3 linked regions of the Homo sapiens genome follow. The protein of the gene in region 3 interacts with the protein of the main gene of each other region in a biochemical or structural test. Each region holds a gene or a part of one and is shown on either strand. Other genes may lie near its edges.

What was found. Proteins that work in one complex are often made in the same cells at the same time.
Region 1: the proteins of SUB1 (region 3) and POU2AF1 form a complex in vitro, tested with the Homo sapiens proteins (one study listed by BioGRID).
Region 2: the proteins of SUB1 (region 3) and REST form a complex in vitro, tested with the Homo sapiens proteins (one study listed by BioGRID).

What each region holds. Positions count from the first base shown.
Region 1 is NC_000011.10:111,369,268-111,376,295, forward strand, and holds part of POU2AF1 (POU domain class 2-associating factor 1), read right to left. Parts: intron 1-7,028. UniProt on the Homo sapiens protein: Transcriptional coactivator that specifically associates with either POU2F1/OCT1 or POU2F2/OCT2. It boosts the POU2F1/OCT1 mediated promoter activity and to a lesser extent, that of POU2F2/OCT2. It recognizes the POU domains of POU2F1/OCT1 and POU2F2/OCT2.
Region 2 is NC_000004.12:56,903,979-56,910,907, forward strand, and holds the start of REST (RE1-silencing transcription factor), read left to right. Parts: upstream 1-3,921; 5' UTR 3,922-4,235; intron 4,236-4,931; exon of another isoform or gene 4,932-5,609; intron 5,610-6,651; 5' UTR 6,652-6,660; coding exon 6,661-6,929. UniProt on the Homo sapiens protein: Transcriptional repressor which binds neuron-restrictive silencer element (NRSE) and represses neuronal gene transcription in non-neuronal cells.
Region 3 is NC_000005.10:32,588,541-32,595,568, reverse strand, and holds part of SUB1 (activated RNA polymerase II transcriptional coactivator p15), read right to left. Parts: coding exon 6,985-7,028; intron 4,007-6,984; coding exon 3,884-4,006; intron 1-3,883.

The DNA of each region.
Region 1 (7,028 bases), on a different chromosome or scaffold from region 3:
CTTTAGAAGTCACCAGAGGATTAGGTTTGCAGCAGATGTGAGTTTTTAAAGTATGACTTCAGAAATGAAAAACCTTGGATATTTTTGAATGGCAGCGATTAGGTTGCAGACAGAGTATGATGGCATTCCCTTGTCCTGACCTCAGATGCAGCCCCTTAAGGAACCTATATGTATCTCCTAAAGGCCAGGGACACAGCCATGGCTGAGGCTATGTTGTAGATACTCCCTCAAGGGGGCTAGAAACCTAGGAGCACATATCGCATATGGAATAGAAATGTGGCAATGGGCAAGGGAGGGCTCTTCAGTGCCCATAGATGGGAGTTTTATCACCTTGTAGAGCAAAGCAGATTCCTGGATTACATATTTGGCATTGCCTCAAATTTGCTGAGAGTGGGGCATCAGGAAAGAGAAAGGGCCTAAACAGAGCTCCAGACCTACCGTCCCAGACCAGAAGGTGAATGAGGAGAGTCCACCTACCCCAGTGGCCACCCCAATTCTATAGCAAGGCAGTACCATAGTGAGGGATGGAGCAGAGGAAAGGGCTGTCTCTTTCCTTATTAGATCAAGGCTTGAATCTAGAATTGCCCATCTGAGCTAGGATGGGAATAACCTGTGGTTAGGCAGCTGGAGGAGGCAGATGGATATCCGATTTTTTGTTCCTTGATTCAAGCAATATCTAATTTTGGCTTTTCAAGACTAAAGAGCTTTATTGAAAAAACTTAACTTTTCCTGAGACCATCATGTAAGGACCACTTTCTTGGAGAATGGACTCTTCAGATCCCAGCATTAGTTTTGTATTTGGGGTCAGACCCAACTGCCCAAGTTCCAAGGCTCATGGTGGCCTGGGGTGTAGCCTTCGCAAGTGAGAGTAGCCCTAACAATGGATTCATGAGAAACATCACAGCTGGTCAAGAGGAGCTTTCTGGATAATGTTCAGCTTTGCTAACCAATGGCCCTCATGATGCAAGGGATTCCTTTATGAAAGACATTGGAGAAGGGGAGTGGTTGTTAGTATCAAGCCTGAGAAAGAAGTCACTTGGTCAGTTTTTTAGGAATTTACCTCCTCTTTATTCACAAGAGACCCACAAAGACCGAACACATAGTCTTCACAGCTTCAGAGCTTGATGAAGACCAATGCAATATGTTTCACAGCCACTCACTGCCACTCTCTGTGACCAGCTAGCAGGGATCTTGCTAAAAAGAGGGGTAGATTGGCCAGGTCAGGGGGATCCAGCTGTGACCTGAAGAACCCTGGAATATAGTTATGGTGCCTGCAGGTGCCAACAGAGTGAGAATGGCAGGGAAATGTGGGGGAACATGAGCAATCAGAGCTCCAGATAGCCCCCCAAAACCGCACGATTTTTATTCTTATACTGAAGTTCTACAGTAGATTTGGTTTGAATAAGGGAGTTTGTAGCAAAAATGTTATAGACATCAGCCTAAAATCCTTGGATTTTCTTCCCAGTGCTAATATTTTATGTCCTAAGATGCATCTGCACACCCCAGGATCTAAGCAAGAAGTCTGATTACCATCTATTCTTCAGGATCCAAACCCAATGCTATATGTTCCATGACACCTTCCCTGATTCCATCATCCCCACCTTCTGCTGAAGATAATTTATTTCATTGGTTGGTTTCTCTAGCTGGAAATAATTCCATTATTGGATGGATGCTTAGAGGGATGCATACCTGCATGGGATGATGAATAGATGGTTGATTTTCCTTCTATACCTTTCCTTCCTGAATTGGTGTACCTTTCATCCAACATTAAGACTTGCTTCTATTGTCAACTCTCTTGCCTCTCTTCTTTTCTTTCCTTTCTGTCACCTCAGCGTTTCCTAGTCCTGGAAAGTTTTAACAATGTCCTGTATGCTTGCTGTCTTCCAATGAAATGTATGGCTCTTTCTAGTGCATTAAAAAGTAATTCAGTTTAAGACTGGTCAAATCCTTTTTTGTCCCAGCACCTGGTCTGAGAATGATTCTGGTTTATAATCTTTTGGTGACCAGCTCTTCCCAGAAAGTGGTACTAATGAAACTGTTACTAAGAAAAGGAGGCCACACATTGTTGTTTCAGTTTTCGGTATCTATTTCTTGCATATTTCAAGTGTCATTCTGCTCACAACTAGATTACAAACACTCAGTCCAATCTTGTGAATTAAAAAAACAAACACGAGTTTGCCAGTCAGTACAAGTCTTGCCGCCACCCTACCTTACAAGGTCGGTAGGAAAATTGTGACGCGAGTTCCAAGTTTGATCACAGAATGGTCAGATTAATCATCAGAAGTAACCATGATCACTAACCCACCACAAGTTACAAGACTGGAGATGTGTGCCCTGCCATTTCACAAGAAATTCAGAACTCAGAGGACATACAAATTGTAATCTAAAATTAGCCGGCATAACCTTTGTCTTCAGAGGTAGATTGTGACAGAATGGGAAAATAATAATAGCAACTAATATTTATTGAGTGTTTACTTAATGCCAAGCACAGCAGAAAACCCCTACCACAATCCCATAAGGTAAGAGTCACACCTCTGGTGCATGCCTATAAAGAAATGGTGGCAGAAGGAGGAAAAAGGACTTACCAGTGTCACACAACCAGTAAGGCATAAACCTAGGACTCAAACTCAGATCTGCCTGCCCCAGAAGCTAAGCTTTAACTACTAAAGGCAAAGAAAGAACAGAAGTGTCACTCTCTAACTCAAAGTTAAACCCTACTCTCTACATCTTACTCTCCACACCCCACCTAAACACACACAAATACACACACACACACACACACACACACACACACACACACACAGAGAGAGAGAGAGAGAGAGATGAAGGAGCAGCCTGACTTTTCCAAAGTCTAGAAAGTTCAGAATCAAGGAAGTGCCACGGAGGCAGAAGCCTTGGCTCCCAGCAAAGGCTGCCTGCTACATCGGGCTCTCTACTAAAACTGCCCAGAAAAGAGTAGGGCTGGGTTATTTGGGGGCAAACTCTAGATCCTTCTCTGAGCCTTTTATTATAGCTAAAATATCTTCAAACTGTCCCGCAGAAGAGGCCCAGCAGCAAGCAGAGACCTTGTTTTCTTCAACAGGTAAGCTGAAGTAAATGTTAAACAAAATGGGTTCTCATGGTATGAACTACCATCTGCAGGGCTTTTTTTTGCCATTGGTCCCTTATCTGACATGGAAGGCCTGTGCTTTTACCAAGAATACTTCCTAAGCAATGTGAGAGAGACAGGCACTGTGGCAGGGAGACAGGACAGCTTAGCAGGCCAACACTTGAGGTCTGTTCACATGAATTTTGCTTTGTAGGAGAGTTACTAACTTAATCTTCATGATTCAGTTTCCTCATCTATAAAATGAACCTTACAACAGAATCTGCTTCATGGAGTTTTTATGAGGATTAAATGAGATAATGCACTCAAAGCATAGTGAAGACTGGCAGTTGTTACACTCAACATCCACCTTCCCTTCCTTTCTAACAGCCCCTGCATTATGGAGGGTGGCAATGTGCCCAGCTAAACAATTATGCTATTCTCCCTTGTAGATAGAAATGGCATCAGATGTCAGCAGAAGTTGTGTGTTGGGAGGGAGAAGGGGCAGCGATCAGGAGGCATGATCTTTTGCTATTCCTTTTTCTTCTTCTTGCTTGTCCGAAGATGTGATGCTCACAGATGTAATGGCTGGAGTTACAATGGCAACTATGAAAAAAATCTTGAGGACAAGAGCCACATGCCAAGGATGGCAGATTAGAAAGGAAAAAGGAGCCTGGGATGATGTTGGCACTGTGAGACTCCATAAGATCCTGAACACCCTACTGTGGACTTCTTTTATGTGAGAGAAAGGACACCACTGTCTTACTTAAATCTACGTTATTTCAGGTCTCTTCACCAGCAATCAAATGTAATCCAAACTGATCCAACAGAACATTTTGTATACTGCATAGCACCAAATAAGTTCTCCATTCCCCAGAGATGTTTGTTTATCACTGTTAAAAGGATTGAGCATTCTTCTGCTCTTAGCAATGCCCAAAGGTTTATTAGAAGCCATCCATTTCAACCTCCAGGTCAGCAGTTCTCAGCCTTCTCACCTGGGAGCCATTTGCAGCTCTCCTTCAATGCCCAAGACAATTTAATCAGAAGCTCTAGGTTGAGATCCAGGCATCTGTGTTTCTTAAATCTCCTCAGAGCATTCCAGTGTGTAGCCAAGGTATAAAAACACTGCCCTAAGCAGATAGAAGAATCCCATCTATTAAATTAAGGACTTCTGATTTTAAACTTTAATTTATTTTTTGTATAAACACTCAGGAAAACTCAGCAATTAGAGCTGGCAAAGAACCTCAATCAAGTTCAATCTCCAGGAAAATTAGCCAGGAAAAGGCAAGTTCCATTCCAGCACTAGAACATTTGAGACCCAAAGTGGTTAGGTGGCTTGCTTAAGGTCTCTCATCTAATTATCTGTAGAATGGAAAGTAAAACCCCTGGCTCCTGCCTACAAGTGCTTGTCCCCAGTATCACACAAGCGGGACAAGAGGGTTTCAGAGAAGGCCTCCCCATCCCAGGTAGGCTCACTTAGTTGTCAAGCAGTTCTACAAAAATGAGAAAACTAGAGTGTTATTAAGCATTTCATAAAGGTGAGAATTATGTTAATGTTCATAATCAATTAGCCAACTTTGGTTTGGTTGGCTCAGAATAAGAAATAGGTGGACATCTTCATTAAGTGGGAAGATAAACTACTTTAGAAAGATGTCAAAGGGGGAAAAAACACTTTGTAATGGGAAAGTTAAAAGCAAATATTTATAAGACTTCTTTATGAATTAAATGTCCACATATTTAATGAACAGCTGTAGGCAAACTTGATTTTTTTTTTTTTTTTTTTTGGTTCCTCATGAAAGAACAGAATCCCAAGTGTGAATTGGGAGAGAGCTTTCAAAACTTCTGAGTCAGTAACTTTGGGGACAAATCTGGCATTTTCTTTAGTAAATAAATATAAGGGGCAGGAAGTAAAATATCCATCAAGAACATCATCTGCTTTTTTACCAATTAAATCTGTGTATTTGGTTGATGTTTGTCCTTTATTTCACCTCCAGACAGTGCACGTGAATTTGTGTCTCTCTTTTGGATTCTACTTGCCCTTAACAGCAAGAACTGCTTAATTGGCCAGGCGTGGTGGTTCACACCTGTAATCCCAGCACTTTGGGAGGCCAAGGCAGGTGGATCACTCGAGGTCAGGAGTTCGAGACCAGCCTGGCCAACATAGTGAAACTCCATCTCCAATGAAAATGCAAAATTAGCTGGGCATTGTGGCATGTGCCTATAATCTCAGCTACACAGGAGGCTGAGGCAGGAGAATCACTTGAATTTGGAGGCAGAGGTTGCAGTGAGCTGATCTTGCACCACTACATTGCAGCCTGGGTGACAGAGCAAGACTCTATCTCAAAAAAAGAACTGCTGAATCAATGGAATCAACTTGGTAAGAAGTAAAGGTGCTCACTAGGCTTATTAAATAAGCAAAGGTTGTAACATAGAATAGAAATATTAGAGGTTGTCCAGAAACCTAAATTACCTCTCATTGTAAGTTGTGCTTAAATTTATGTAGGAGATAGGCTTCCAAAAATTATATGCATAGTACACATTTTACTTATCTTTAACTGCCTCCCAAACAATATTGGCTCTTTAGTGGAACCCTAGAGTACATCTGAAGAGCAGAGTTCTATGTTGATGAGAATTTTAAGTCCTTAATTTTTCTGTTTGCTAAATCTCTGCTCTGTTCAAGTTGTCTGAAAGCAAAGGCATATCCATGACATAATAATCTGATACGAATTATTTCCTGTTCCAAGGCCAAGTCCACAGGACACCAAGACAATCAGCCAGTCCAAAGAAAATCAGTCAAGCCTGCCTTTCATTAGCATGTAGATTGTTCCCTAATACAAACAACAACAATAAAAAGCAACTGTCCAATTTGTTCACTTTCTAACAAATGGAGTTCAGTTTATTATACACAGTTCTATCACTTTTAAGGAAGAAATTCAATCAAATCAGTTTGGGGCATTGTACAAATTATTTAATGAATTGGCTGCAAGTTTTATTTCCCATTGGTGTTGGCAATGTACAACCCCAGGATACTGAGTATCTTTTTTTTTTTTTTTTTTTTTTTTGAGGCGGAGTCTCGCTCTGTACCCCAGGCTGGAGTGCAGTGGCACGATCTCGGCTCACTGTAAGCTCCGCCTCCCGGGTTCATGCCATTCTCCTGCCTCAGCCTCCCGAGTAGCTGGGACTACAGGGGCCTGCCACCACAACCCCAGCTAATTTTTTTGTATTTTTAGTAGAGACGGGGTTTCACCATGTTAGCCAGGATGGTCTCGATCTCCTGACCTCGTGATCTGCCCGCCTTGGCCTCCCAAAGTGCTGGGATTACAGGCGCCCGCCACCGCACCCGGCCTGATACTGAGTATCTTAAGGAAATGAATGCCTGAAGAACCAAGCAAATCATCTCAGACCAGAGGTTGGCAATGTTTTTCTATTATAAGCCAGAGAGAAAATATTTTAGGCTTTGTATGCTGCACAGTCTCTGTCACAACTACTCAACTCTGCAAAAGCAGCCCTAGACAATATTCAAATGATAGACAGAGCTGTGTTCCAATAAAACTTTATTTACAAATGGAGTGGCAGGCCTGATTTGGCACAGAGGCCATAGTTTGCAGACCACTATTTTAGACCCTTGGAAAATTTTGCAATATCCTATCACCCAAGAATATTTAGACTGTGGCTTTTTAACTATTCTAATCAAAGTGTGGAAAAGAATATATGAATTTAACATAACACTGATCATTCAAGATGGGCCCACAGGTGGTTTCCAGGACGGAAGGTACTAACTCATCCCTACCACTACTTATCAGGAAACTTGCTATCATTTTACCTACATTCTCTACTTTAATTCTCACAAAAACCTTGGGAGGCAGACATTAGAATCCCCACTTCCCAGATAAGGAAATGAATGGAAATTTCCTTCTCACAAAGAAAGAACTAAGTTGCACAG
Region 2 (6,929 bases), on a different chromosome or scaffold from region 3:
TGGGATTACAGGCGTGAGCCACCGCACCTGGCCAAAACAGATTGTTAATGATCACCAAGGAATATCCAACCAGAGGCTGATGCGTGAAATCAGGAATGTGCTAGGAATACAATATGCAGAAGAGCAGGCAGGGAGATTTTCACCAGGAGGGTAGAACCCCAAGACCAGGGATCCAGGAGCATTAATTTATTTAACAGTAGTTATTAGGGAGATTCAAGGAGGCAGGCTCATGCTTAACATGAGGGAAGACTGTGATGGGTACTGAACGTTGGGTACCGACATGGGTAAGGATGGTCCCCACTTTGAGAGATTGTGATACCAAGCTAGGATTTTGTAACCATTCATCTAACTAATATTTGTTGAGCAACTAACGAGTTATAGGTGCTGGGGATAAAAAAATGTCTCTGCCTTTCTGGAGCTTAAGTTCCTAAGTAGGGTAAATAAATAAAAATACCTAGCATGTTAGTAATAAATGTTAGAGACAGAAACAGCAGGGAAGGGCATTAGGATTGGACGAAAATGGGAGCAGAAACAGCAGGGAAGGGCATTAGGATTGGACGAAAATGGGAGCGGGTTCCAAATGTGATCTAGGCTCCAAAAGAAGGCAGGAAGGAGCCCAGCTCAAGTCTCAAGTTCTCTTGTTCACCTCCTTCCCTTCTCAGCATGAAGGGAAAACCTCCCTGGCTCAAGCTGTTGATGCCTATAATGAGTAAGACACTATTCCAGTTATCAGAACCAGAACAAGAGGTCAGAGTCCAACCGGCAGCAAGAGTAGATGATGCTGGCTGGACTCGGTGGCTTACACAGGTAATCCCAGCACTTTGGGAGGCCGAGGCGGGTGGATCACCTCAGGTCAGGAGTTCGAGACTAGCCTGACCAACATAGTGAAACCCCATCTCTACTAAAATACAAAAATTAGCTGGGCGTCCTAGCGGGTGCCTGTAATCTCAGCTACTCGGGAGGCTGAGGCAGGAGAATTGCTTGAACCCAGGAGGCAGAGGTTCCAGTGAGCCAAGATCTTGCCACTGCATTCTAGCCTGGGCGACAGAGCAAGACTCCCAGGCGGGGTGGCTCACACCTGTAATCCTAGCACTTTGGGAGGCCCAGGCAGGTGGATCATCTGAGGTCAAGAGTTCAAGACCAGCCTGGCCAACATGGTGAAACACCATCTCTACTAAAAATACAAAAATTAGCCAGACAAGGTGGCACGTGCCTGTAATCCTAGCTACTCGGGAGGCTGAGGCAGGAGAATCACTTGAACCCGGGAGGTGGAGGTTGCAGTGAGCCGAGATCGCACCTTTGCATTCCAGCCTGGGTGACAGAGCAAGACTCCATGTCAAAAAAAAAAATAATATATATATATATATATAATTGGCCAGGTGTGGTGGCTCACGCCTGTAATCCCAGAACTTTGGGAAGCCGAGGCAGGCGGATCACCTGAGGTTGGGAGTTCGAGACCAGCCTGACCAACATGGAGAAACCCCCGTCTCTAACTAAAAATACAAAATTAGCTTGGCGTGGTGGCACATGCCTGTAATCCCAGCTACTCGGGAGGCTGAGGCAGGAGAATTGCTTGAACCCGGGAGGCGGAGGTTGCGGTGAGCCGAGATCGTGCTATTGCACTCCAGCCTGGGCAAAAAGAGCCAAATTCTGTCTCAAAAAAAAAAAAAAAAAAAAAAAGAAAGAAATCTCTCTAGAGAAAATACTATTAAGAACATATGATAATTAAAATAAAAAAATTGATGAGTTAAATATGCAGGAAAAAAACCATATAAGAAAAGCAGAACTCATTCTCATTTCAGAGTTTTTATCTTGCAGAAGATCCTAAAGTTTGGATACAGCAAAGTAAAATACAGACTTTTGAAAAACAGTTAGGAATTCAAGTTCATAGCAACAGCTTCCCTCAAGAAAATTTTCAATTGATTTGTAATTTGGCCTATGAATTTGACCTGTGGCCTTCATGTCATGATAATTTGGGTCACTCTGAATATGCCATCCCTTGAACAAGGGCCTCTGCTAATTTTAAATGAATGCAGCTGCCCATTCGCCATTCTTCTATTTGCATCACAATATGTGGGAATAAATTTGCAATTAATAAGACATTTCCAGTAAGCAGTCAGATTGAGGAAATGAAGGACATTTAGTAAGTTTAACAAGAGACATTTCATTTTTGCCTTTTTGGACCTAAAAAAGGGAAAGAAAACAAGTTTATGTCTTTGACAACCTTGGTAGAGGCCTGAATTGTACCCTGGGCTACAGCATCTAAAAAAGCCATGTGACCTCAAACTTGATTTTAGTTAAACAAATAAAATATATATAGAAAAGTTTGTACCAGTCCTAAAAATGTCGATCTTCCTTTCCTCCCTCCCTCCCTCCCTTCCTTCCTGTCTCTTTGGTTCAATGAAAATGAATACTTTTCAGGTTTGATTCATGGAGAGGTGTTACATTTGAAATTGCCTCATTGAAACTTTTGGTGGTCGAGCACCTTAGGGTCTTCATTTCATCTTGCATCGGAGACTGCATTAATTAGTAATATATTGTCCAGATAGAGGGAAACAGAGGTCCTACGTGGGTATACCAGGAAATGAAGAGTCTGGAAGCCCTGCCCTAAGAGAAACAAATAAAGGAACTTCAAAGAGAAGGAAGTGAGGTACCCTGAGGAGAAGCTGGGATGTCTTAACAACTGCTTTGGGATTTTGAGCTTGCCCTTTTCACTGTGTAGAGTGTTCCTTGCCCTACTTTCCACCTGTTGAAGTTTTCCTCATTCTCCAAGGTCAGACTGAATACATCTACTGTGAAAAGTTTCTAGAACCTCTTGGGATCCATCTTCCTACTGGCAAACCCCCATAGCACTTGCTACTTATGTTGTAATACCAAGCAATAGTCAGACTTATCTAGGTCAAGTTAAGTAGGGGCTTGAACGCCACACTAAGGGGTTTAAGCTTTAAGCTTGTAGTCATGGGGAGCCACTATGCTTCTGAGGACAGGTGTGACTTACGACTGACGTTTAGGAAGGTATCAAAGGCAGACTGAGAAGCTCTTTCAGGTGTGAAAGGGGGTGGAATTACTCTCTCTCTGTTCTTTTTTGTTGTTTTTGTTTTTGTTAGCACATGACTATGGGCTAGGCATTCCGCTTGGTTATCCCGCTTCATAGACGTGAGCCCGGTTACTCCGACACACCGTGGCCCCAGGCAGCCTCCCCGTCCTCACCACCTTTTCTTCTGTCATCTGAGGGTAATTCCTCCCCTGCAGTCGTGCTTTCCGGGCTCAGCAATGACCTGCTACCTGCCACGTCTAGGGATCTGTCCCCTCAGTCCTCACGCTCACGCTTTCTGAGTCCATAACCTCCTTCCTGAAACGTTTTCTTCTCACTTCTCCCAAACTGACTGCATTCCCCCTCCGGTAGTTTGAAATTTGGAAGACTTTTTTTTTTTTTTTTTTTTTTTACCGCAGACGCTTAAAACGAAGCTTAATTAGTCAAGGACAGCTATGGGTGGAGACTTGAAGAGATCTGAAGGGTATCTTGGAGCGCTTTAGACTTGAGAGGCCGGTGACAATAGCTCTAAAGAGACCCGTCAAAGCCTGCGGATTCTTCTTTTAACAGCTCTATTCTCATGCATGCACGCCAGGGCTGGGGGGAACTTTTGTTGTTTGTTTGTAATAGAAATCGAGAAAGGGAGTGGGGCCCGCCTCTTTTCTGACCTAAGGGCAGGAGTGAGGGGCCGGGAGGATTACGGGCGGCTCCCCCTAGACGCGCCCCCAGGCGAGCTGGAGACTGGGGCACTCCTTGCTTGGTAGAGGGGCGGGGCGCGCCTAGCGGCCACGCGCGCGGGCGTCGGAGGGGGCGTGTCTCGCGGGCGCGCGCGGGCGTCGGAGGGGGCGTGTCCCGCGGGCGGTGGCGGCGGCGGCGGCGCGGACTGGGTGCGCGGCGCAGCGTCCTGTGTTGGAATGTGCGGCTGCCGCGAGCTCGCGGCGCAGCAGCGGAGCGAGCGCCGCCGAGGCCCGGGGCCCCAGACCCTGGCGGCGGCTGCCGCAGCCGAGACGGCAGGGCGAGGCCCGGAGGCCTGAGCACCCTCTGCAGCCCCACTCCTGGGCCTTCTTGGTCCACGACGGCCCCAGCACCCAACTTTACCACCCTCCCCCACCTCTCCCCCGAAACTCCAGCAACAAAGAAAAGTAGTCGGAGAAGGAGCGGCGACTCAGGGTCGCCCGCCCCTCCTCACCGAGGAAGGCCGGTAAGTGGGGCGCTGGGCTGGGGGCTCGGTCAGGGTGGGGGAGGGCCGCCCGGGCGGCGGCAGTGGCGGGACGGGGAGGGCGCGGAAGGACGCGGAGTCAGGCGCTGTCCAGGGCTGATTTGCAGATACTGTGGCTCCGGCGGCGGCGGCCCCGCCGGGCGGGGGCTGGCGGCCGAGCAGGATCGGGTTACACAGCAGCCGCCCGGGGGCTGGGGGCGTTTGTTGGGAGCAGCGCGTCGCCTGGACCCCCTCCCCACTGGAGGCTGGGACGCCGCCTCCGCGCTGGCCCGGACGCTCCACCGAGTCAGGTCCTTTGAGGCCAAGGAGCGGAGCTGCTCGGGCCCGTAGTCCTGAAACTTCCTCTGCTTCCTCCTCCTGCCCCCGGGTCCCACCGCAGCCCCGCGCCGGCCCGCGGCCCTCCTGGCCCCCTCCCCCAGGGCCTCTCCCTGTCGCCGGAAGGCGCCGTTGAGTGCGGCCGGGCGGGTTGAGTCAGCCCCGGGGCCCGGGCGGTTCCGCCTGCGGGGCTGGACAGCGATTTCTGCGCTTCAGCCGTCCGGCGCCGCTGGCCCCCGCGTCCGGCCACCCGACCGCTGGAGCTGGCGGGGCTGGGGCGCGCGTCCTGCCGGGCGCCGTGGGGGAGTGAAGTTCGCAAACTTCCGGGGCGCGGGGGTGGCGGCTGGCCCGTGTGGGGGCCCCCTCCGGCGCTCGGAGCCCGACGCCTCGCGAGGGCGCCCGCGGAGCCTCCCCGGCCCTGGGCGTTGGGCGAGCCCCGGGGCGGTCGGAGGGGCCCGGGGGCGGTCGGAGAAGCCCGGACGCCGGCTGCGCGGTAACTTTCCGTCCTCTCCCGGGACGGGGGCCCTAGGGCTGGGGAGGGGGCTGCCTGGACTCGGGGAGGACTGGTTCCGGCCAAACAGCGCCTCGAGCTTGATCCCCTCCCCCGTTTTAGTGTTGGAGAGCGCAGGAAAAGGCTCAGGACGAGTGTCGGGGCGACTCCCGCGAGTTGGTGTGTAAATGTGTGCAGTGAGCGGGCCGAGGCGAGAGGAAGCGAGAGCGCCCGAGTTTGCAAAGAGCTGCTTTGTGTTTGGTATTTTGAGAAAATGGCCGAATGCCTATTTCAGTTAGGAATGCCGCCGCCGAGGCAGGCGCTGGTGGCAGCAGCACGGAGGAATTCGTGCAGCACGTTGGGCTTTCGGGCTGTGCCTGGACGGTCTTCCTAACAATCGTTAAAATTCCATTTGGGGTGGCAGTTAGGGGTTAGGGAGCAATTAGAAAAGTCGATGTTGGGCCAAATTACCCAATAGCTTGGGCTGTTCAGCCCCGGGACAGCCTTCGCCCTCTGTTTTCTGTGATGGCATTTGCTTCCAACTTTTGTTGGTACGTAGAACTAAACCGGTTTGTGTTTATACACTTGGGTGAAGCGGGTTACTTTTTGTATTTTCGGTTTAACTTTATTTTCTTAGAACTTCTTACTTTTTTTAATTTGCGAGTGAACACTTCGTTTGAGAATGGCACCTTTTAGATTGAGAAGTAACGTAGCATCTAGAAAGCCCAACTTGTTTTGAAGAAGGTGATCTTGTAATGGCTTCCACTAGGCAAGTAGGCCAAGTCAAGCACAATGCAAGAAAGTTGCTGATTGTCGAGTTGAGTTGCACGATGATTTTATTCGTATTGAAAAGCTTGGAATTCAGTGTTGTGGAACTTCAGCCTGCAGAAAAATAAGCTTATTAATTTTTATTTGTGAAGTTTTGAATAAATCAAACTTCCTTTTTCACAAGAAAAGGGGTCCATAAATGTTTTTTCTTTTAAGCCTGTGGAGTTGTCGAAAAATTAAGGGGCTGACTGCTACTTTTTCACAGTAGTTTATTCTTTTGGAGTTAGTTGAGTTCATGCGAAATCCAATTAAGTTGAACAATTATTACAGGCTTGTACTTTCCAGATGTGTTTGTGTACTTAATAAATGCACTGAATGGCTTGTGGATTTCTGGGCTTTCTGATTCAGACCATTGAACTGTTGAAGGGGGGAAAAGTTGGGAGGACAATAATTTACTACTCATGTTTTGAATTTTTAAAATAATTTTAACAGTAAAAATGAAGGTTACTTTTTATCCCCACCAGAACAATTAAAAGTGCTTGAGGAGGCACCACATGCCAGTGGCTGAATGATGAATGAGTTGTGCAAACAATTGGTAGAATTGTTTTATAGGGATAGTAGAAATTTTTTTTTGGTGATTGCAGTAGACTATTGGGAATTAACAACTATTTTAAAGATTTGTTTTTAATAGGCGATGAAGTTTACTGAGTTATAAAGATCATACTGGAAAATTTTTAAGTTATGAAGAATTACAGCGATGTGGTTTTAAGCCAGTAACAGTAGTGTTTAAACTGGTGCTCTTGTTTTGTTTTGTTTTTAATTCAGAATACAGTTATGGCCACCCAGGTAATGGGGCAGTCTTCTGGAGGAGGAGGGCTGTTTACCAGCAGTGGCAACATTGGAATGGCCCTGCCTAACGACATGTATGACTTGCATGACCTTTCCAAAGCTGAACTGGCCGCACCTCAGCTTATTATGCTGGCAAATGTGGCCTTAACTGGGGAAGTAAATGGCAGCTGCTGTGATTACCTGGTCGGTGAAGAAAGACAGATGGCAGAACTGATGCCGGTTGGGGATAACAACTTTTCAGATAGTGAAGAAGG
Region 3 (7,028 bases):
CCACCCAAGGTGAATGGATTTACAAGTTGTAGTATTATCATACAAAATACTACTCAGCAATAAAATTACTGATATATGCAACAAGAACTAATCTCAACACATTATACTGAGCAAAAGCCAGACACAAAAAATAGACTGCATGTATCCATTTATACAAAGTTCTAGAAGAGACAACATAAATCTATAGTGGTAGAAATAAGATCAGTGATTACCTAGGACATGAGCAATGACTGTAAAGCCAAGAGGAACTTCCTGGGGTGATGAAAATGGTCTGGCCACAAAGGCGTGTACATTTACCACAGCCTATCAAGGTATGCTTTTAAATGTGTGCGTTTTATTGGACATAAACTATACCTCAAAAACATTTTTTTTTTTAAAAAAAAAAGGAATCTGCCCAACAGCTGCCTCTCCCTTGGGGGGAAAAAAAGAGTAAAACTGACAAATTCTTATTAGCAAAAATTAAACAAGTGATGAGATAGTAGTATAGGGATATATTACTTAAAGATAGAAAAAATAAAGATCACTGAAATCACATTTTATTGGAAAAAAATAAAATCAGATGACAATATATTTTATATCCACAAAATCTGGAGATTAGCAGCAAAAAATAGCATATACATCATAAAGAACTGTGATTCTTATACGAATTTGATTCCCTGTCCCCTCTGAAGATCTGATAAAGCAGTGGTTCCTAACCTTTTTGGCACCAGGGACCAGTCTCACGGAAGACAATTTTTCCACAGCAGGTAGGGAAGGGGAAAGGTGATCGTTTCAGGATAAAAATTATCCCACCATCAGGCATTAGATTCTCATAAGGAATAAGGAACGCACAACCTAGATCCCTTGCATGCGCAGTTCACAATAGGGTTCGCGCTCCTATGAGAATCTAATGCCGCTGCTGATCTGACAGGAGGCAGAGCTCGGGCTGCAATGTTCACTCACACACCGCTCACCTCCTGTGCAGGAGGGACCCCTGTGATAAAGGTTATGAATAATTCCTTCAAACACAAAAAAGAAAACTCAAATTAAAAAACAATTCTATGGACTCCTGCCCCAGATTAAAATGACCAGTTATAATCATTTTAAATTAAATAATTTAAAAGTATCAAGTATCCTTAAATCATCAAATAAACTAAAGCAGTATTACTGACCCTTTGTGCCTAACTCTGAAGAAAAATATGGATTAAAGTTTCCTGCCTCAACTATTCTGACCTTTCAAGACACAGGTACTAAATAATTATGAGATAATTCTCCAGTCTCTTTACTATCACAGATGTCACCTCAGGTAGACTACATCCCTATGGAAGAAAGTTCTTCAAAATCAGAGCTGAAGGAACCAGGAAGTAAGCATCTCTAGTATCTTCTCTCTAGTCACGATTCTGCCCCAATCACTTCAGACTTTAAAAGATAAGTCTATTGATTTTTCTTTGGTACAACTCTTTAATACATTTAGAGAACTGCTTATGTATTGATGTTTGATGTACATCAAGCTGTAATGGCAATGAAATTAAGTATCATATTATTTCATAATGCCTACACTACTAGATCCATGAAAGCCACTCTGAAAATAAGGCCTAGGCTGGGCGCCGTGGCTCACACCTGTAATCCCAGCACTTTGGGAGGCCAAGGCAGGCAGATGGCGAGGTCAAGAGATCGAGACCATCCTGGCCAACCAGGTGAAATCCCGTCTCTACTAAAAATACAAAAATTGGCTGGGGGTGGTGGCGCATGCCTGTAGTCCCAGCTACTCAGGAGACTGAGGCAGGAGAATCTCTTGAACCCAGGAGGCGGAGGTTGCAGTGAGCCGAGATTCGTGCTACTGCACTCCAGCCTGGTGACAGAGCGAGACTCCGTCTCAAAAAAAAAAAAAAGAAAAGATGACCTATGTTCCTCCTAGAGGCAGGCTTTCAAAAGGTGCAATGTCAGCCTTAGGAGGCTTAGGAATCTTTCCAGATGAGGGTTTAAGAAATGAAGCTCCGTTTTTCTGGTGAGAAAATTCCTAAAATTAGATCTAGTTTTCACAAAACTCCTCTTAACAGAACAGAATCTCTAAAATGTGTGTTCTGAACTAAATAGTTCATCTGCACTTTGTCTATCTTTTTTACCTAGAAGTATAACAAGGCAAAAATAAGCAATAGGAAAAAAAAAACTTAAATTTTCCCATTCTCACCTTAATCTTGGCACTCCACCTTTCAAAGTTATCAACAGGTCAAAATATACATGTGTTAGCCTTACTTTCTAGTCATATAAATGTCTACAGTCTTGGCCAGTCACGGTGGCTCACGCCTGTAATCCCAGCACTTTCAGAAGCCAAGGTGGGCGCATCACTTGAGCTCAGGAGTTCAAGACCAGCCTGGGCAATACTGTTTCTACCAACAACAAAGAAAATTTGCCAGGCGTCATGGAGCATTGCCTGTAGTCCCAGTTACTCAGGAGGCTGAGGCAGGAGGATCATTTGAGCCCAGGAAGCGGAAGTTGCAGTGAGCAGAGATCACACCACTGCACTCCAGCCTGGGTGACAGAGCAGAGACCCTGTCTCAAAAAAAAAATTGTAGTCTCGTTCCACCCAACTTTTTGGTTTCAACTAATACTTATAGCTCCTGGAAACACTCATCCTTTTCTTGCTCCCATTACTGCACTCTTCTAATTTTCCTTCACCCTCTCTCTTAACCTACATCCTCTTTTTCCTTCCATTCTCTATCTGAATATAACCCAAGACATCCCCTCATCTGCTTCCTGTTCTTCCTCTGTTTAATACTTCAGTAGGCAGCTTTAGTCAACCATGCTGATAATCCCACATGAACATTTCCCAACTAAGCCCTTCAGGTGCTACAGAAGCAACACCATTTTTTTTTTCAATCACATCCACAATCAAGTCCACATCTTCACTGACTGCCTAATTCCTCTGGTCCATTCTTCCTAACCTGTATCTTGTAATTGGCATAATTTCTTCTTTAGGAAAAACCATCTAAGCCCTTATCACCTCACATACAGATTAAAGCCTACAATTACCTAAGCAATCTCACCTGCATTCATTTATTCCCCAACATCCCTTCCTCACAAATCCTTCTTGTACAAAGATGCCAGTGTCAAGTCTCCCTAAAACAAGACAGGAAACCCAAGAGAAAAAGCTATACGAGTCCTCTCTAGGTGATTTCATCAAGTCCCTCTAATGAACTTCCTTCACTTTATCTATTCAACCCATTCCCCTTTTCTGTTGCTCATCAGGCCAAAATTAGGCATGTCACATTGCTGCTTCCTGTCCCATAATAATCTATTCATACTTTACTGTCCCAACACTTGACCTGCCTCCTCCAAGTTGCTTTCAAAATGTGCAGTTCTCAATTAAATTTGCATTGGTTTAAATACAGCAAAACTAGACTTTAGAGACTTTAACAATAATCCAGCATCGTACAAAATACTTTTACTAGTTTGTTCTATTTTAATAAATGTCCCTAGTTAAGAAGATTGTAACATACATATTAGGCAATTATCAGATCATAGTACTTTTAACATTCTTCAGATCAAGCCAGATAATAATTCCTCTGAATCTAAAGAAACAGCCAACTTTGGCAAGGCATGGTGGCTCACACCTGTAAACCCAGCACTTTTGGAGGCTGAGGCAGTTGGATCACAAGGTCAGGAGTTCAAGACCAGCCTGGCCAAGATGGTGAAACCCCATCTCTACTAAAAATACAAAAATTAGCCAGGTCTGGTGGCGGATGCCTGTAATCCTAGCTACTCGGGAGGCTGAGGCAGAGAACTGCTTGAACTCAGGAGGCTGAGGTTGCAGTGAGCCGAGATGGCGCCACTGCACTCCAGCCTGGGTGACAGAGCATGACTCCATGTCAAAAAAAAAAAAAAAAAAAATAGCCAACTTTACCTGAAACATGTTATCATCTCTGCTGCTGCTGCTCTGTTTAGAAGATGACAGGGCTCTCGAAGTCTCACCTGTCTTTTGTTTCTTTACAGGTTTTTCTGGAGCAACTTGCTTTTTCCTCTTTAACTAGAAAAGAATATGGTTAAAATTTGCACACATAAAAATAAAACATACCCCAGTGTCAAAAGATCCCATTACTTTTTAAGATTTAAACAATCAAAAGACTACATCCAAAATATCATAAATATATACATAAGCAAGTTTCACTCAACAACAAAACTATGAATCTAACCAATCCTTCTGTCTAGTAATGTTTTCAAACTCTGTTCTCAGGATCCCAAAAGACACTTCAGGCATTATAGTAGTATTAACCACAGGAACGGTTATTTTGTGGTTTGGGATCCCACATACGATTTCTTTGGTAGAAAAAAAAATGGAGGGATCTTGCTACTTCTGAATAAACCTGGAAACCACAGTCTACTAAGGCTAGTCAGTTACTTATTTTACGAAGCAGATATACTAATTAAAAAGAATATAACCAACTTATTCCATTTCCAGGATATGTTTATTTATGTCCTGCCTATTCCAAAAGGAATTTATGCTGGCTTAAGGAATTTATGGGCCGGGCGCGGTAGCTCACACCTGTAATCCCAGCACTTTGGGAGTCCGAGGCGGGAGGATCACTTGAGGTCAGGAGTTCGAGACCAGCCTGGCCACATGGTGAAACCCCATCTCCACTAAAAATACAAAAAAAGTTAGCCAGGCGTGGTGGTGGGCACCTATAATCCCAGCTACTAGGGAGGCTGAGGCAGAGAACTGCTTGAATCCAGGAGGCTGAGGTTGCAGTGAGCCGAGATCGTGCCATTGCACTCCAGCCTGGGCAACAGAGCGATACTCCATCTCAAAAAAAAAAAAAAAAAAAAAAATTAGCCAGGCGTGGTGGCACACGCCTGTAATCCCAGCTACTCGGAAGGCTGAGGCAGGAGAATCGCTTGAACCCGGGACGCGAAGGTTGCAGTGAGCCGAGATCGCGCCATTACACTCCAGCCTGGGCAACAAAAGCAAAACTTCATCTCAAAATAAAAAATTAAAAAAAAAGGAATTTACAATTAGGCAAATCTTTAGAGAGCTATTTTGCACTGGGCACTGACAGCCAGCAACTCAAGAACTTCCTCATTACAAAAAAAAAAAAAATCATTGTAGACAGCTATGTGTTAGACTAGCTTTCAAAAATCACAACGTTGTTTTAAAAACAGCATTATTTTAAAAGCTTATTAGAAAGTCGCATTCTCAAAAAGAGCTAACCCATAAAAACCACTACAATACCCAACCCAAACAGAAGAGGGCAGTCATGTTCCTTCTTGATGGAATAGTATAAATATTTTAATGTTACTAAATTAATTGAATGTTACCAAATTAGATGAAGCTAGGAAAAATATTATATACATGTAAAACATGAAATGAAAAATGTGGTATACAAGGTTAAGTGTTTACAAGAGTAATATTACTATTTGGGACAAACAAAAAGTTAGCTCAATATGCAGAAAGCAATTATTCTATAAATCAGGCTCTAAGTATTCCCTGTGGAATAGTGCATGTCTGGCAAATAAAAGCTCAATACACATGTGTTACATCAACATACTCAAATACTATATAGGGTGCAAATTTTAAAATTAAGAAATTTACTCAAGTATAGTCTTTGAAGCCTTATTTTACCCTTCCATGTGTTGTTATATTCTATATTTATACTTTAAGGTTGCAACTTCTCCAATCTCCCATACGCTCTCCCCTTTTCTTTTAGCTAAAATTGCTAAGCTTCAGGAGGAAAAAAAAAAGATAGGGAGCCTGCTTCTTTTGAATAAACTTTCGGAAATCACAGGTCTACCAGTGCTAGTCATTACTTACTATTTTACAAAGGATATATACTAATTAGGAAAAACACGACCAACTTATTCTATTTCTAGGATATAAATATCTCTTCAGATATGTAAAGTTCTATGCGATAAAAGACAATTCTGCACGGAAGACTTGACCGCAGAGTGAGACGCTCAGTTATGCTCCACTGAGATGCTCAATTTAGCGAAATTCACCAATTACGGTGCAGCTGTCATCTAATGCAGAAAAAGCCTATCTTGTCAATGGGTTTCAAGTTAGCTTTACTGCGTGCTGATTTAATTAAATGGAAGGGACCAGAGCACAAACTTAGTACAAACTTAAAAATGTACCAAGTCTAAAATTCAGAAAACCTTATGTGCAGAATAAACACCAGTAACTAAGAGAACTGTCAAAATTAACATTTTATGGCCACTCATGATGGCTCACACCTGTAATCCCAGCACTTTGGGAGTCTGAGGCAGAAGAATTGCCTGAGGCCAGGAGTTTGAGACCAGCCTTAGCAACACAGCAATACCTGGTCCCTACAAAAACATTTTTTTTTTAATTAACCAGGCATGATGCCTGTAGTCCCAGCTACTCTGGAGGCAGAGGTGGGAGGACTGCTTGAGACCAGGAGGTCGAGGCTGCAGTGAGCCATGATGGTGCCACCACACTCCAGCCTCGGCAAGAGAGTAAGACCCTGTCTTTAAAAAAAAAAATTAACATTTTACAAAAAAAAATCTGGTAAATTTCTAAATAACGGCAAATAGTGACTTTGGCCTACTTAGAATTCTATGACCCTAGGATGCAAGGCAGTGTTTCTGCAACTTTAGGGTTCCTAATGATGCTCAACAGAAGACTTGTTAAGTCTGATTTAGGGCCTATGAGTATGAATGTGCAAAAAGCATCCTAGGCACTTCTAGTCAAGTGGTCCAGAGACCAACCGTACCTCCAGAAATACCCATTCACATTCTTATTTTTTATTTTTTATTTATTTATTTTTTTAAAGAGACAGGTTCTTGCTATGTTAGCCTGGTTGGTCTTGAACTCTTGGCCTCAAGCAATCCTGCCACCTCGGCCTCCCAAAGAAGTAGGATAACAGGCATGAGCCACCGCGCCCAGCTAGATCCTCATTTTAAGATGTTAATACACCTTTTACTATCCTTCAGAATGGGATATGGACAATATTGTTGAGTATCACCAAAATGACTTGGTGCAGCAGTAGTCACCTTTTTGTCAACCTCACTGTCAGAATCACTGCCAGAAGAGCTTG